2 separate regions of the Homo sapiens genome follow, and region 2 is linked to region 1. Evidence: fine-mapped expression QTL. A gene starts in region 1. The other region holds a variant in brackets. All regions are shown on one strand. Distances are from middle to middle.

Evidence for each region. PIP is the estimated chance that this variant, and not a neighbour inherited with it, causes the effect. A credible set is the group of variants that fine-mapping cannot tell apart.
Region 2: its variant is the best candidate, but not a certain one, in a credible set for the expression of LINC01939 in prefrontal cortex (CommonMind, PIP 0.55).

Annotation. Positions count from the first base shown.
Region 1 is chr2:900,717-909,049 of GRCh38, forward strand. It overlaps LINC01939 (long intergenic non-protein coding RNA 1939), which reads right to left and starts at 4,735. Exons shown (of 4, transcript NR_110179.1): 1 at 4,504-4,735; 2 at 1,176-1,243; 3 at 846-1,002.
Region 2 is chr2:868,090-876,422 of GRCh38, forward strand. It overlaps LINC01115 (long intergenic non-protein coding RNA 1115), which reads right to left and starts at 337. Exons shown (of 3, transcript NR_111963.1): 1 at 29-337. RefSeq lists an enhancer at 154-1,353. The variant A/C (reference allele first, on the strand shown) is at 4,387.

The DNA of each region.
Region 1 (8,333 bases):
TTTCTTTGAAAGCCAAATATCATCATCAAAGTGTTTATATAAAATGTATAATATCTTGATACATGCATTTCATTAAAGCCTAAAATGAAAACTTGAGTCAAAAATATCTTTACATTGCTTTTCTGATGAAATTGTATTTAGATACAAATCTTTTATTATCATGCAATAAATATTTCTATGATTCATAGTAGAAATGCTTTTGCAATTCATGATTGAAAGTCTAAATGGGAGAATATTGATCCTCATATGTCTCTATTCACATACATAACCTGACATTTCATTTAGAATGTAAACCATATAGGTAGGTTAATAGTTGTGATGTTATTGCTTCTTGATATTTAAAGAAAACATATTCAATGATCCAATAAATGAAGTCCATATGTATTGGCTCTAGATAGAAGATAAGGAATATGTTACTTTAATTTTGCTTTGGATACTACACTTTATTTGGTGATGAAAATATACAACTGAAGATTTTGGAAAAAGTCTAAAATCCTTTATTATTCTAACATTGTATGACTTGAGTTACCCACTGGCTGCAAGAAATTCTGGTAGGCAGCACAAGGAAATCATACAATAAAGACTAAAATCAGTGGGAAGTTGGTAGATTTGTGGACTTCTACCCAGTGACAAATTATGTAGAATTTTTAGAAAGTTCATTTTCACTGGTAGAATTATCTAAACTTTTAAAGCAAAAACTAAATAATGTATTTTAATGATAGATTTTCATGGTGGAGAGTAAAGAAAGAACATTGAAAACCCACTAAAACCCCACAATCATTTCCTTTTTTTGTGGGGCGGGGAGCTTTATTATCAGTCAGCCTGTAATTTAGTTGATAAATTACCTGCATGTCTTCCTTTCCCTTTCCCTGGAAATAAAACAAAATAAGAGAGGAAGGTGCACTCTCCAACATTCGGCTGCACAGGCCAGGCTGCGTTCCTCCGCCAGGCATGTGATGTTTGGACAGGGGTGCTATTTTCTCTCTCAGAGTCCATCTGTGACTAGAGTAAAGTGAAAGGTTTAAAACCCATGAGTTGTATATATTATTATAAAAGGAAGGGCCTGGCCAGGTGCGGTGGCTCACACCGAGGCAGGTGGATCATGAGGTCAGGAGTTCGAGACCAGTCTGGCCAAGATGGTGAAACCCCATCTCTACTAAAAATGCAAAAATTACCTGGGTGCGGTGGCGGGCATCTGTAATCCCAACTACTCAGGAGGCTGAAGCAGGAGAATCGCTTGAACCTGGGGAAGCAGAGGTTGCAATGAGCTGAGATCATGCCACTGCACTCTAGCTGGGTGACAGAGCAAGACTGTGTCTCAAAACACAAACAAAAAAAAAAAAAAAAGGAAGGGCCTGATTGTTCATTTATTCATTTGTTCAATTAAAATTTCACTAAAAAAATTATTTTACAAGAAGATGCTAAAACATTGTTTTGTGTTTTTCTAATTTAAAAAAAGCAGTAGATGTTGATTATCTTTCCAGCCATGATGAAGTAACTGAGGCAGGCTTAACGTTCTGATGTAAACAACTACAAAATTGGGCAGAAGACAAGAGGCTGGGCATAGGATCCTGTGCTCACACCTCCATTAGGGGGTTTCTGGGATGCAGCCCCACTGTGGCCTCACTCTGCAGGTCACTCTTGAGAAGTCAGATGCCTACTTTGTTCTTTGGCCTGGATGAGGAATGTGATATTTTATCTTCAGGCCCTTAGGATTGTGTTTCATTATCTTTAAAGTTCAATAGTTTTATCTGGCTATGTCTTGGTTAAATATGCCAGGCCAGTTCCTGCAGGTCTCAGTAGGCCCTTCTGACATGTAGCGTCAATGCTTCTTTTGTTTCTGGAAAAGTTATCTAACTCTGGTTTCTCTAGCTCTGGCCCTAGGTTTGTTCAGGACTCCAGTTAGACATATGCTGGCTCTTTGTTGGCTCTCTTGCATGTCACCAATGTCACTCTGACCCTTTTTTTAATATAACTCATTTTGATAGTTCATTTTATGTGTCAACTTGCCTGGGCTATGGGGTGCCCAGGTTTTTGGTCAAACATTATTCTGGGTGTTTCCATGAGGGTGTCAGTGCCTGAGATTAATTTACTTTGGTGGACTTTAAGTAAAAAGCAGATTCCATAACATGGGGGTTGCACCAGGCCTTGCACCCCTAAAGGCCTAAAGACCCCCACTCCCTGGCTCTGAGAGAACTCTGCAGCCCACCTGCTTCAGACTCCAGCTGGAGCGTTGGCCCTCCTGGGTCTCTGGCCACCAGCCCAACCTGCAAACTGTGGACTTGCCAGCCCCATAATTACGTGAGCTCACTCTTCCTTCCAGGGATTCTGTTTCACTGGAGAACTCTCATAAATCATTTTAATTTTAATTTTTGTTGTTTTCTTGCCTTTCTTGAATGTCTCAAATTGTCACTCAATCCAACCATTCTTGGTTTTGGTCATTTTTATATTTCCTACTAAAAAGTCCTTTTCCTTGTTCAACCAACTGCTTGGTAAGGATATTTAATTTAAGGTGCAGTATTGTGCTCAGTTCCCTTCTCTGTCACGGTTGTTTTTTGGCAGTGCATTTTTATCACCTGAAATGGCTTGATTCTCATTTTGTGTTTTCTTCTACTAATAGCTTTTTATAACGCTGGGCTGCTTTTGTTTACTTATTTCTTCTGACCGTTAGAGGCAGCGGATAGGATTCCTTGTTCAAGAGCTCTCTCTTCTGTCAGTGCAGCAGCATTCTGTTTCTCGCTGCTGTCCTGGGGGAAAGTGGTGTGTCATCTGGTTTCTGCTCCTCTTTGGTCTTGCAGAACCCCACATTTTCCTCTCTTGCTTCTCTTTATTTCTTCACTCCTCTGCTTCCTAAGGGTCCTTCTTCCTTCTGATTTACCCTTTTCTTCAGAGGCAAAGCAGCTCTGGGCATGCCACGTGGGTCCTGGAGATGCATGTCTCCCTTCCCTGGAGCTGCCAGCCCCTGGGAGGCTTCTCTGCAGTTTTACCACCACAAAGTGGGTTTTGCTTAACGGCAGCTCCTGCTCCTTTTCTCCATGTCCCTCCTGTCCATGTGCCTGGACTTTCCTCAGTGTCCACCACTGTGTTACCTTTGGGATCAAAGGTAGTCGATCTGCTGTTGTATGTTGATTATTTCACCTGCAGGTGATTGAAACACACCACCTCTCTCTCCCAGGCTTGCCAAGGGAAGAGTTCTACGTAAAGTTGTTCTTCATGCTCATCTGCATAGTTATCTTGGAGATGTTTGAAAAGATTTAGATTCAGGTGGCTGCCAATATCTTCAGGCAACCCAAAGTCAAATTAACGTTTTTATTTTATGTAAATCAATGATTAGAAAATTGATTTTACATATTTTACATAATTATCACCATGGGACTCATTATTTTGTTGCCACTCGTCAACCTGTTAATTCTGCATTTATAGTGATTTGTAATAGTTTTTCTAATTAAGGCAAACTAAACGAAATCAGTTAATAACGAAGTAGATTTTATCCCTCATGTACGCTAATATAGACTAACATGAAATCCCATAATTTATCTTATCTCAAAGCACATTTTTATACCAGGCAGCTGATTTGGTTTCTGCCCTCAGTCTATTCTCTCTCACACAGACTCCCCTTTTCTTTTTCTCTGTTTCTGTTTTTCCTGTCCTTCGCACCCTCAGCAGGGAGCTCAACTTCCTGGCACTATTCTCACACACATGTCAGGTGTAAACATCTTTATGGGGGAAACAGGCTCTGGCTGTCTCACAAAGCTTTAGTTGTCATGCACATGTAACACTTTCATTCACTTCTTAAAGGTGATTTACATGAGCCTCGCACAGCTGAGACGTATTTCGCTGCTTACTAAACCTTGAATGATGGTGCGTCATTCTCATTAAAACAAGGAAGCACAGGAAGGTGGAAGTATAAATTTTTGTGAGTGTTTCTGGCCCACTATGAAAGTGCGACAGCGGGCATGGCTGTCTAGGCCTCCCTGGCAGCACTGGTGTGGGGGCTCCCAGGAAGGAGTAGAGGAGGGTTAGGAAAAGGATGGGAGGGCCACGGGCCTGGCAGCTGAGCAGCACCTGGGCCCTCACAGCTCAGATTGCAGAGCAAAGAGGGAGCCACGTGTGGAGGGTGGGGAACATGGAGCGAGAAGGGGAGGGAAGCACAAAAGGGAGCACAAGAGGAGAGAATGGAGGGGAGCATGGGAGGGAGCATAGAAGGGGGCATAGAGGAAACACAAAGGGAGCACTGGGGAGAGCATGAGAGGAACAGGGGAAGCACAGGCGAGGTAGCACAGGGGGGAGCACTAAGAGAGCACACCGCGGAGCTGCCTCCACCCAGGCCTGGCATGAGCAGGGTTGACCCCAGAGCCCAGACCCTTCCCCCAGGAGCACAGGGAACAGGCAGTGTTCCCCCACAGTGGGGGCGGGAAGGAGAGTCCAAGGGCCAAGGAAGGGCTGATGGTCCATTTCCTGTGGAATTGCGCCAACCTGATGGCATCCATAAGGCACACTTACCATGCTTGGGTTCTGTGGTCAAGTCCAGAAGAGGCACGTCCTGCTCAGGGCCCCATCGGCTACCCTCCGTCCCCAGTACCTGGAACTATGTATGGCACCAGCCCTGGGGCAGGCACGGGCCTTGGCTTCTGAGCTCCAGGGATGCCCCAGACCCCCTCCCTTAGCTTCTGCTTCTTGGCCTCACATCCAACTGCTGCAACGGCACCTCTGCACCTGCTGGTGGGGGTGACGCCTGTCCCTTCTGCACCTGCCAGCCAGGGATTATGACCTGTCCTTTCTGTACCTGCCAGACAAGGATTATGACCTGTCCCTTCTGCACCTGCTGGCTGGGGATTATGACCTGTCCCTTCTGTACCTGCCAGGTCGGGGGTGATGCCTATCCTTTCTGCACCTGCTGGCTGGGATTATGACCTGTCCCTTCTGCACCTGCCGGCTGGGGGTTACGACCTGTCTCTTCTGCATGTGCTGGCCAGAGGTGATGTCTGTCCAGTCCACATATGCCGGCATGGGGGCTGACTGGTCTGTCTCTCTACATCTGTGGGCTGTGGTGACTGGTCTGTCTCATCTATCATCTACACCCACCAGCTGGGTATAATGCCACAGACTCTGCCTGCTCCTGCGCTGGCACATGCTGTAGCTCCTGGGGAGTAACCTGAGGAGTTACCTGGGGTGTGTCTGGCGCAGGTGACCTCTGCATGTCACTGGCATTGCAGCAGAAGCCGGCAGAGGACCCAGGCCAGCAGAGCTCCTTCCCTCTTAGCTGTTGGCCAGGAACCCCCTCTCAGGAGCTGAGGGCACCTCTGGATGGAGGGCAAGACAAAAACATGTTCTAATCAGAGAAAATGGTTGGTGGAGTGCTCTAAGTGCAGGATGGGTGGATCTGAGAGCTGGGGGTCCTTTGCTTCTCCCGCCCTCACGGCAGGGCTGGTGCAGAGGGGATCGGCCCAGAGGTCTGAGGGGCTCTAAGAGCAGGAGATAAGAATTGCAGGAAGGTTCCCGGGAGCAGATTTTAACTAAACAGTATTAGTTAAGCTGCATTTCCATAACTAATCAATTTTAATTAACAGAGCCCATGTATCTGGAGTTAATTTTGCTATGTTCTTAATAGGAATAGGAGAATCTTTCCTATAACAGCCATATAGAAAATGTATTTCTTCAGCCATATTCTTTCTAACTAGTGTGGACCTGCTTAAGAATGCACTGTCCTGTATCTTATCTCAAACAGGAATTTATCTAGTCTATATTCGAGATTATCATGAAATCATATTAGTACTTTATGAGCTAAAGCATTTTGAATCACGTTCCAAATATTATGTATACTCCATAATTTCCTGTATAGATCATTAAATTCCCATATATCCCAATTTAAGTAAAAATACATTTTTAATTACCTGAGCTTCATAACCCCAACTTTACCATTTAATTAAAGCACAGACTTATCAAAGTCTCCAAAGCATGGGTGGGTCAAGTTTAATACTCATCTGGCCCACTTTCAATGCCCACTAGGTCCTTCTGGAAATGAACTTCTGAATAAGAAAGGATTATTAATTAGTAATTAGTATAATTAATTATTAATTATCTACATTAATTAGAATGAATGCACATAGCGCATATTATTAAAGTAAGTCACAGGAAATGGTGAAATCCTTTCTAAATCACTGATTCAAACAATAGTCAAAAGAGCTGACTACCTCATAAGACAGAAAATGTCATAGTCCTGCTCCAACGTTAATCTGTCCACTTCAAATATGTCAATTCTATTTACGGCAATTTGCCTACATTGAAATTCATTGATGTATGATAGTGCTAAGCTGGCCCTGTTTTAAGATACAGTTATGTGATCAGAAATTCAGAAATAAATAAATCATGTAAATTTTACTATTTTATTTTACTATTATGAGACTATACAAACTTTGCAAATGTTTATAGTGGAGTCACTTTATTGATTTGCATTAGAAAACTATATAGCAAGTAGATACATTGCCTTGCAAGGCAACAAATTCCCTCAAAGGGGGTTAAAATTATAGTAGAGCAGTGTTCTCTTTACTCTTTTATAAGGAAGATTCAAATGCCACATAGTCCCTCAATGAGATCACCTCAGAAGTCTCCTGCTGCTCTAGAGCCTATGATTGATTCTTCTTGGTCAAAAATAAACAGGTGCCAATCCTTGCCAACTGCCACTGTCTAATTAAGAGATCCATTTTCTCTTTGTTGGATAAATGTAGAGTCCTCAGCCTCCTGCCTCTCCTCCCTTTAATGGGGTTGAATTTGGGAAACGTTTCCCGGCAGGAGCAATGTTGTAATAGGCATAAGGGAGGCGTGTGTGGATCCAGCACACCTCTACTGGAGAGGAGTGGAAGGCAGACCACAGAGGTGGGGGACAGAGAAAGAAGGAGGCTTTAAATTCCTGCTGGAGTAGTACGGATTTTTTTCCTGTAATTGGTGGCAATCTCTGGAAGGTTGTTGGCTGGGAGAAGCACACCCAGGGGCAGCGGAGGAAGATTGATATTGTATTGTTGTTCCAAGTAGAATGGGATAAAAAGGAATTCACAGAGATCAAAGCTTCGGGACCTCATCTGTAGGCCACAGCACACTGTTTGCAATTCTCAGACCAGATCCAGACACTGCTCTTCTCAAGCCTCGGCACCCAGGGTCTTAGTCACCAGCAAGGCTCTCTCGAGCTTTTGCATCTAGGGACATACATCTTTCTTTTCCACCTGGTGATGTCACCTCCTGAAATGTCAGGTCAGATGGCTCATTCTCCATGTGGCGTATCTGCTTATACTGAGTTCCTCCCTTTATTCTTCTTCCTTGGTACTTTGGTTTTGCTAATCACATCCTTACTGCCATTTTCCGTAGATCGCAAGAACTCTTGTAGATAGATATTTGCCCCATTGATGCTGAGCTCTTTGCCTGGTCAGGATGATGCCCTGATCCTGTTTGCACCCCCATCCTCTCTAGGGCCCTAAAACAATGTCCCATGGTTGATGCACAGCAGATATTTGCTTTTTGTCACTGTTTTTTAATTCATCAGTACACCTGAAAAAAAATACTTACTTGTCTTTTCAATGTAAGCTTATAAAGTGATAAGTATTTTAAAATGTAATGGCCACACCTCAATAAGTGTCATTATCCTCCCACTAGGATAGACTTAATATGTAATGTTATAATTCTGTTTAAATAGTAGATTACGTTAGGAAAGGAGAGTAAAGAAATGTGACTTTGAACAAATAATATCTCTTCCCTTCAGGGTCAGAACTAGCTGGAGTTATTCTGATGATCATTACCTGATTGTTAAATTCAGTTTGGACAATTTGGAGTCTTTATGGACACAGAGTCCCCAAATGCAAGGTGCAGTAGACTGAATGTCTGTCCCCTCAAATCTGAAACGTTGAAATCATTTGGGAAAACTGAAATCAGTTGGTCTTTGGGAAGGCATGAGGGTGAAACCCTCCTGAATAGGATGAGTTCTCCCATAGAAGAGGCCCTGAGAGCTGCCCTGCCCCTTTCCCCAGGTGAAGACACAGCCAGATGGTGTCTTCTGGAAGGGAAGAGGGCCCTGCAGACACCGCATCGGCAAGCACCTTGGTCTCAGACTTCCAGCCTCCGGAGCTGTGAGACAGGTCTCTGTGGTTTAGAATCCACCCAGGCTGTGTGATTCTGCTGTAGCAGCCTTAATGGACTAAGATACAAGGTAAAATGTCATTTGCTAAAGGAAGTAAAAGAACTGGAGACATTAAAAATATACAGGAAACCTGCACATTTATCAGAAAAAATAAAAAGCTGTCATGTGCCCATGAAACCAAGTGCTAAAACAATATCTACAGTTT
Region 2 (8,333 bases), 33 kb before region 1:
CTTCAGTCTGGGAGCTGATAAATCTCACCTGGTCAAGTGGGAGCCTCTGGTGTCTGAGACGGCAATGGGTGCGCCCTTTGTCTAGACGGCAGGAGCAGGAGCCAAGATTTAAACGTCAGTGCCTCGATCCAATTTCCATGTAAATACACTGCCTGCGAGGTGCGTGGACTCGGGAGCTCTGACGTAAACGCGCTGCCTGCGAGGTCGGTGGACTCGGGAGCTCTGAGGTAAACGTACTGCCTGCGAGGTGCGTGGACTCGGGAGCTCTGACGTAAACGCGCTGCCTGCGAGGTCCGTGGACTCGGGCGCTCTGACGTAAACGCGCTGCCTGCGAGGTGCGTGGACTCGGGAGCTCTGATGTAAACGCGCTGCCTGCGAGGTGTGTGGACTCGGGAGCTCTCACGTAAACGCGCTGCCTGCGAGGTCGGTGGACTCGGGAGCTCTGAGGTAAACGCGCTGCCTGCGAGGTGCGTGGACTCGGGCGCTCTGACATAAACGCGCTGCCTGCGAGGTCCGTGGACTCGGGCGCTCTGACGTAAACGCGCTGCCTGCGAGGTGCGTGGACTCGGGCGCTCTGACCTAAACGCGCTGCCTGCGAGGTCCGTGGACTCGGGAGCTCTGATGTAAACGCGCTGCCTGCGAGGTGTGTGGACTCGGGAGCTCTCACGTAAACGCGCTGCCTGCGAGGTCGGTGGACTCGGGAGCTCTGAGGTAAACGCGCTGCCTGCGAGGTGCGTGGACTCGGGCGCTCTGACGTAAACGCGCTGCCTGCGAGGTCGGTGGACTCGGGAGCTCTGAGGTAAACGCGCTGCCTGCGAGGTGCGTGGACTCGGGAGCTCTGACGTAAACGCGCTGCCTGCGAGGTCCGTGGACTCGGGAGCTCTGATGTAAACGCGCTGCCTGCGAGGTGCGTGGACTCGGGAGCTCTCACGTAAACGCGCTGCCTGCGAGGTGCGTGGACTCGGGAGCTCTGAGGTAAACGCGCTGCCTGCGAGATGCGTGGACTCGGGCGCTCTGACGTAAACGCGCTGCCTGCGAGGTGCGTGGACTCGGGAGCTCTCACGTAAACGCGCTGCCTGCGAGGTGCGTGGACTCGGGAGCTCTCACGTAAACGCGCTGCCTGCGAGGTCGGTGGACTCGGGAGCTCTGAGGTAAACGCGCTGCCTGCGAGGTGCGTGGACTCGGGCGCTCTGACGTAAACGCGCTGCCTGCGAGGTCGGTGGACTCGGGAGCTCTGAGGTAAACGCGCTGCCTGCGAGGTGCGTGGACTCGGGAGCTCTGACGTAAACGCGCTGCCTGCGGGGTGTGTGGACTCGGGAACTCTGCAGCTTCTTTCAGCTCCAGTTTCCTTGTGGACAAATGAAATGTAGTAGCTCCCACTCATCCTCACGGGGCACATTCCAGACCCGGTGGGTGTCTGGGACTGTGGATGGCACTAAACCCGACGGCCGTCAGTCAGAACTTGTTTATCCTTAAGTCTTCCACCCACACATTCAATACCTGATATGGTTTGGACTTGTGTCCCCACCCGAATCTCATGTTGAATTGTAGTCCCCAGTGCTGGAGGTGGGACCTGGTGGGAGGCGACTGGATCATGGGGGTGGATTTGCCCCTGGAGGTGGGACCTGGTGGGAGGTAACTGGATCATGGGGGCGGATTTCCCCCTTGCTGTTCTCACGAGGGTGAGTGAATTCTCAGGAGATCTGGTTGTTGAAAATTGTGTGGTGCCGACCTCCTGTGTTCTTCCTGTGGTTAAAACTTTTGCAGTTTGAGGTGCAACAGCAAAACTAGCAGGAATTTCTTTTTCTTTCTATGCAATTTCAGAGATAGAAGATTTGTTCTTATGGTAGATATTAGCAACCTCAGCATACAATTTTTTCCTTCCTTCTTAAGTAGAGAACTTTCACCTTTTCACTTAAAGGGAGCACTTTACAGCTTCTCTTTGCCATCTACAAGCTGCCAGCCTCACTGCTCTTCTGATCTGGAGCCCTTGGTAAGCAAAATAAGGGCTGCCTGAACTCAGGCACTTGTGATCTGCATCAGTGGACCTGCTGACCCAGGAGAGCTACTAAGCCACTAACAGGCATGTGGTGTGCACAGCATGGATCTGCTGGGCAAAGAGATGACCCGGTCCTGGTCAGGATGGAGCAGGACAGTGCAAGATTTAGTCATAATGCTCAGAATAGCATGAAAGTTTGAGACCAGTCTGGCCAACGTAGTGAAACCCCATCTCTACTAAAAAAAAGTACAAAAATTACCTGGGCGTGGTGGTGGATGCCTGTCATCCCAGCTACTTGGGAGACTGAGGTAGGCGAATTGCTTGAACCTGGGAGGTGGAGGTTGCAGCGAGCCGAGATCCTGCCACTGTCTCAAAAATAAATAAAAATAAATAAATAATAAAGCCTATAGAAGCAGTCTTTCTGCAGCCCCAGGTCCTGCTCACTCATGTCCTCATCCAGAAAACATTCTGGAGCAGCCACTTCGTGTCTGCACGGTGCAGGCAGGGGTGCAGCTAGGGTGCAGGTGTGCAAGGCATCCACACCCCGCAGGATGGTGCAGACACAGACGTCAGCCACTTCCCCACGGGCCACCTGCATGACTGCTCATGGCAGGCTCCTAAACTGGAGTCTCTTCTCCGCAAAAATTGCATGTGCCTGCCTAGATCTTAACAGGAAAAATAATAAAACTTGCTGGTCAAAGTTAATTTAAAATGTCTCCATTAGTGTAGAGGACACTCACTCTCCACCTGCTTTATTTATCCTAATATTAGGTGCCGTCTGACTTCCACAGCCTGACATTTTGTGGTTCGGTTATTCCTGTGTACTTGTATTTTGTGTTGACTAAACCAATATAATTCAGCAATGCTTCTTGGGGAATGTGTGACTTCATTTTTAAATTGATATCTTCCCTGACTGAAAAACCTCCAATACTCAACAAACATGCCCTGAGCTCCCACTGTAGCCTCCGAGCCCTATAAGCCAGGGGCGTGTGAGATGCCAGGATCTTCCTGTCCTGCAGAAGAGGATGACACAGGCGGCAGGAAGACGGCGCCGGGATCTTCCTGTCCTGCAGAAGAGGATGACACAGACAGCGGGAAGATGGCGCCTCCAGGATCTTTCCGTCCTGCAGAAGAGGATGACACAGGTGGCGGGAAGACAGCACCGGGATCTTGCCATCCTGCAGAAGAGGATGACACAGGTGGCGGGAAGATGGCGCTGGGATCTTCCCGTCCTGCAGAAGAGGATGACACAGGTGGCAGGAAGACGGTGCCTCCGGGGTCTTCCCGTCCTGCAGAAGAGGATGACACAGGCAGGAGGAAGACACAGGCAGGAGGAAGATGGCACGTCTGGGCACCAGACCCCGGATGAGAGGACTGCACGCCTCTTCCCGTTGACATCGGCCTTGAGAAGACGACGCACCCCACACCTGTGCAGAGGCCCTTCCTGGCTTTGTCACGATTCTCACAAGCACATTCGGATGGCACCGCTCCTTCCACGTGTGTGAGATCGCAGACCTCAGCCCAGTGCAATATGAGCCCGAAATAACCACTGCTGCTGCCACCAGTGAGGTGTGGGATTATGGCTGCTGCAGCCTGGAGAGCCAAGTCCCTCTGATGTTGTAGGGCCAATGGATGCCACTGGAGGGGATGCAGGAGACAGACACAGGGGCTGGTCCAGTGGCAGTGAGTGCCCGGCCCTAACAGTGCAGGGCGCCTGTCACCCCTCAGGGACTGGAGATGTGCCCAGGGAACCTCAAAGGCAAGAACAAGACTGAGGCCCCAAGGGCAGCTGTGGGGACGTCCAGCCTAGCTGCCAGCCTGGGGTCCTGGGCAGAGGTTGGTGGCTAAAATGCAGAGATGCAGGGCACAGCTCAGCAGAAAAGAGCCCTGATGACATGGCCCATGATCGGGAGGACGGAGGGTGATGCTCAGAGCCCCAGGGCCCAGCTCCCCTCCTGGGGACTGCGCGGCAGCAGGGGTGGCAGAAGGAGGAGGCACGAGGGTGTGGGCACTGGCCGGGTGCCAGGCTGAGAGGGAGCCACAGCAAACGCCCCTTGGCTTTGGCATGGGCAGGACAGCCAGGCCCCGCCAGGATGGCAGGTGCTCTGGGTGGCTGTGGTCTCCAGCCTTGATTCAGCAGCTCTGATCCTCCACACACAGGCCGGCTGCATGCGCCTTGGGGAGGCCGCTTCCTGCTCCCTTTGGCTCTTCCAGAAGGTTCAGACGATGAGCACTGCCACTTACTTTAAAGCCTTTAATAAGCATCTTTGAAAATACGCTTTTTAAGAAATGGATAATTAAATACTTCCCAGACCTAGAAACACAAAGACTCAGCAGAGCACCTTGGAATGACCCAGGCACGAGCTTCCTGCACCTGCCAAGTGCCT[A/C]TTCCACGATGCCCGGCTCCTCCACTCGGGAAACCCCTTCCTCCCATCCTCCTCCCCGGACCCCATCCTGGGGGTTCACTCCTTTGCACGGAGGCATTTTGAAACCAAAAGTCACAGTTTGTGCACAGTGATGGAGAAGCTTATTATTACCTGCCCTACATCAATTAAATGTGTCACAGTTTGAGGCTTCCCATTAAATAATTTCTGTCCCAGGCTAAGTTCTACTTCAGGAAGTAAAGTAAGAAAGGGCATTTAATTCCTGTCTATGCCAGCATTACAACCACACAGAGAGATGCAAATTGATTTCCGTCTTCATGTGGAGAGTCTCTCGCTGGTTTTTCAGAAAATGACCTTCCATTCACTGACATTCTCAAAAGACATTAAATAAAAATATTTAATCAAAGAAAAAATGGTTATGAATATGGCTGTAAACCAGCATTTCAGGATAACACTTCATAACCAGTTCAAGACCTGACAAACTTATTTCTTTGTAAACGGACATGAATTTTTTTTCCAGTTGCATTCTAAAATGGCCATTTTTTTTCTCAAGTACCAAATTTTTTTTGTGAAGTGGTTCAGGTTGCTAATAATGCATAATAACTAACCTGAATCATAAGGAACACCACCTGGCCACAGCCCCTCCTTTAGGGCTCTTTCTGTCACAAGGCGGGAACCCATGGGCACCGAGGTGGCCTCTGACCAGGAGCCTTTTCCAGTTCTCACTGCTCACAGTGCACACCCGGCAGCTTCCTTCCCACCTGAACTGCGGCTCCTCCCTGCAGCATCTCAGCAGCCCTGGTAAGCCTGGGCTGAGGCCAAATACACATGAGAAAGTCAAGCTTGCATGGTGGCAATGCCTGGAAATCAGTTGTTTCTAGAAAAGTCCACAGTGAGTGAGCAGATGATGCCAGGTGTCCCACAGTGAGTGAGCAGGTAACCCCAGGTGTCCCACAGTGAGTGAGCGGGTGACCCCAGGTGTCCCACAGTGAGTGAGCGGATGACCCCAGGTGTCCCACAGTGAGTGAGCGGATGACCCCAGGTGTCCCACAGTGAGTGAGCGGGTGACCCCAGGTGTCCCACAGTGAGTGAGCGGGTGACCCCAGGTGTCCCACAGTGAGTGAGCGGGTGACCCCAGGTGTTTCCACACAGAGTTAGGCTTGTGTTTTTGAAAATAAGTGCATTGGCTCTAACATGTAGCAATGCACTTCATTCAAATCATCATCATTTACAGGTTTACCATCTACCCTTAGACCGCTTCTGAAAACCAGAGAAGCACCCATGAAAGTGGGAGGTTTTACTACGGGAGGAACCGTGGTGTTGCCCAGGAGCCCTGCGGCGTTCACCTTTACTCAGTCCCTCACCTGCCGTGCCTGACACCCGCCAGCAACACACACTTGGGACCAGTCCTGCTGCCCTGTCACCCGGCATGGCTGACCCTGACCGGGGCCTTTTCCGAGCTGCTGTAGCTCATCTCAGCCCAATGCCACTGGGAGACATTGCAGCACATCTCTCACCTTCGACTGTGGAATATTTGAGGACAGGCCTGTGACTCACCAGATCATGGCTGGCACTCAGCACAGGGGCTCATTCTAAATGCAAGAAGGGGCACACCAGGGGCGTGCCCAGCCCCTCCTCTCACCAAGCGCAGGTGGTCAGCACGACTGCATGGAGCCCTGTGTGCACTGGGACGGGCTGAGGGCTGTCACTCCACCACAGCCGAGGCTCGTGTTTACCGCATGTCACTGGACGTGCATCCCCTGCACAAGTCCACGTTCACCTTCTATCCATGGTGACTCCCATTTCAAAGCTGAGGCTGCTGGCGAGCAGAGGTGAGGCAATTTGCATGCAGTGATGTCACAGCCGGCACACAGCGGAACCAGGAGTCACATGCATGGGCTCTGACTCCACAATGCCTGGGTTTCCCTCTGCGCCCTGTGCCCTCCTCCAAGTTTATAAAGCCCAGCTCTGGGTCACTGAGCAGCTGAGTGGTCACGCCTCTTACAGAGACTCACTTCCCTCACTTGGAGGGTTGCTGAACCTTCCCGTGAGGACACTGTGTATGCCTGGAAGCTTTGCGCAGAGCTTGGAGCCCTGTAAGTGCTCCTTGTCTCTGCGTTAATTACACAGATGCAAAGACCCTCCGTTTCGGCGATGCCTCTCTTGTGAACCCTTCCCGGAACACCCAGGCAGGCCTTTCTGCTCTGGTCTCTGTGCATCTGGGGAACCTTGTTTAAACTCCCTTCATAGCATAAATTATGTTGCCTCATAGTGGTTTGTTTGTGTTTCTACTTTCCTGAATATTATTTAAGGGAAAGAACAAAAAGAAAGGCTTTCTGCATCTACCAAAATCTAGCAGAAGAGGTGTTCAACACGTAGCTGATAACCTCCAGGAATCAGTGAAGAAACCAGCAGCACCAAACGCTACGAGAGCCGGAGGACCAGAGGCTCGGCGAGACCAGGGTGTGGGTTAAAGGCGGAAGGTTGCGGTGCTGCAGGTTGGGTACATCTAGAGATCCAGGGTACAGCAGGAGAACTGGGGTTAATAATGTGTCACATATGGAAAATTTGCTAAGGAAGTGGGTTTTAGTTGCATAAAAGAAGCAACTATGAAAAGTGATGGAAATATTAATTTGTTTACCACCTGTAGTCATCACTTTACTATGTAAGTGTATACCGAAGCATCATGTTGCACACCTTAAATACAATAAAAAGAAAGTAAGAGTGAATTGAAATATTCCAACTTAGAGTAGGCAGGGCTGAGTTCAATCATTGGTGCTACCAAATTAATTCAAATCACATATACAGTATAGAATTTCTAAAAAATCCCTTGTTGTATCAACAGAGGGGTAACATACCTATTTATTATTAGCATATTAATATTTGACCCAATTGTGTAATAAACCGTGATGCTTAGGAGCCAAAAAGTAATTGATGCTTCTTTCCTAGAGAAGTCATCTTGGAAAAGGCTGATCAGGAGAGAGGCATCTGAGCTGTGCATTGACAGATCTTTGGGGATGTCAGACAGACAGTTAGGAGGCTCTTCCAGGCAAAGGAGAGACACAGGAGCACATTAAAGATATCCTTTCTGTTGGCAACGGGGAAAAATGTAGAGTCCTCTTTGGTAGGGAGCAGTGAATGAGGGTGCCCACGTTCAGAAACTGTGCATGAGGGCAGAGCCTGGGTGGAATGAGGCTGGAGAGGCTGGACGCTGCCCATCGTGAGGCCAGGCCCATGTGAGACGCACCCTGCTGTATCTGGGGTGCAGACCACACAGCTGTGGCGGACATGGATAATTCGCTTCCTCAACATCGGCCCCCTCTGGCTTCTGCGGAGTCTGCCAGGGAGCTCGACTCTGCCCTTCCAAGATCCTTGCTGCCGAGATCCCCATGGGAACCTAGGCTTTACCATCAGACACACGGGCTGCAGACTTGGATGCGAGAATGAGGTGACGGGGGAGCCCCAGCAGGGTGGCCGGTTCTGCGGGAGGCGGCTTCTGCAATTGGTTTCTGCTCCTGCAGAATCCCAGAGTCTTCCTGACCTCACAGAGCATGTTCTCAGGGTGATCCTGCGACGGATTGAAGGCCCACGCATCCCAGATGCTGCGTCTTAGCCAGGATTATAAACAACTCACCCCCAAAAGCCCACCTTCCGAAGGGCACCTGTACACTGCGACAGTCGTTCATAGAATTCTCCTAACTAAGCAGGTCCGGGATGGCCTGAGGGAGTGGGGATTGGGATCAGGCACAGCATTGGATCCAGGATCCCTCAGCTCTCTATAGCTGAGGCTAAGCAAGAGGGCGTCATGCTCTTTGCAGCCAGTTCTCCATCAGAGTTGGTGAGTTAGGGCAACTAGGGGAAGGAGGAGAGACCCCTGCCTCAAAACCCAGGTCTTCAGCCACCCTCTCCTGGGCTCAGAGAATCAGGAGCCTGCATCCAGGCCAGGTCTG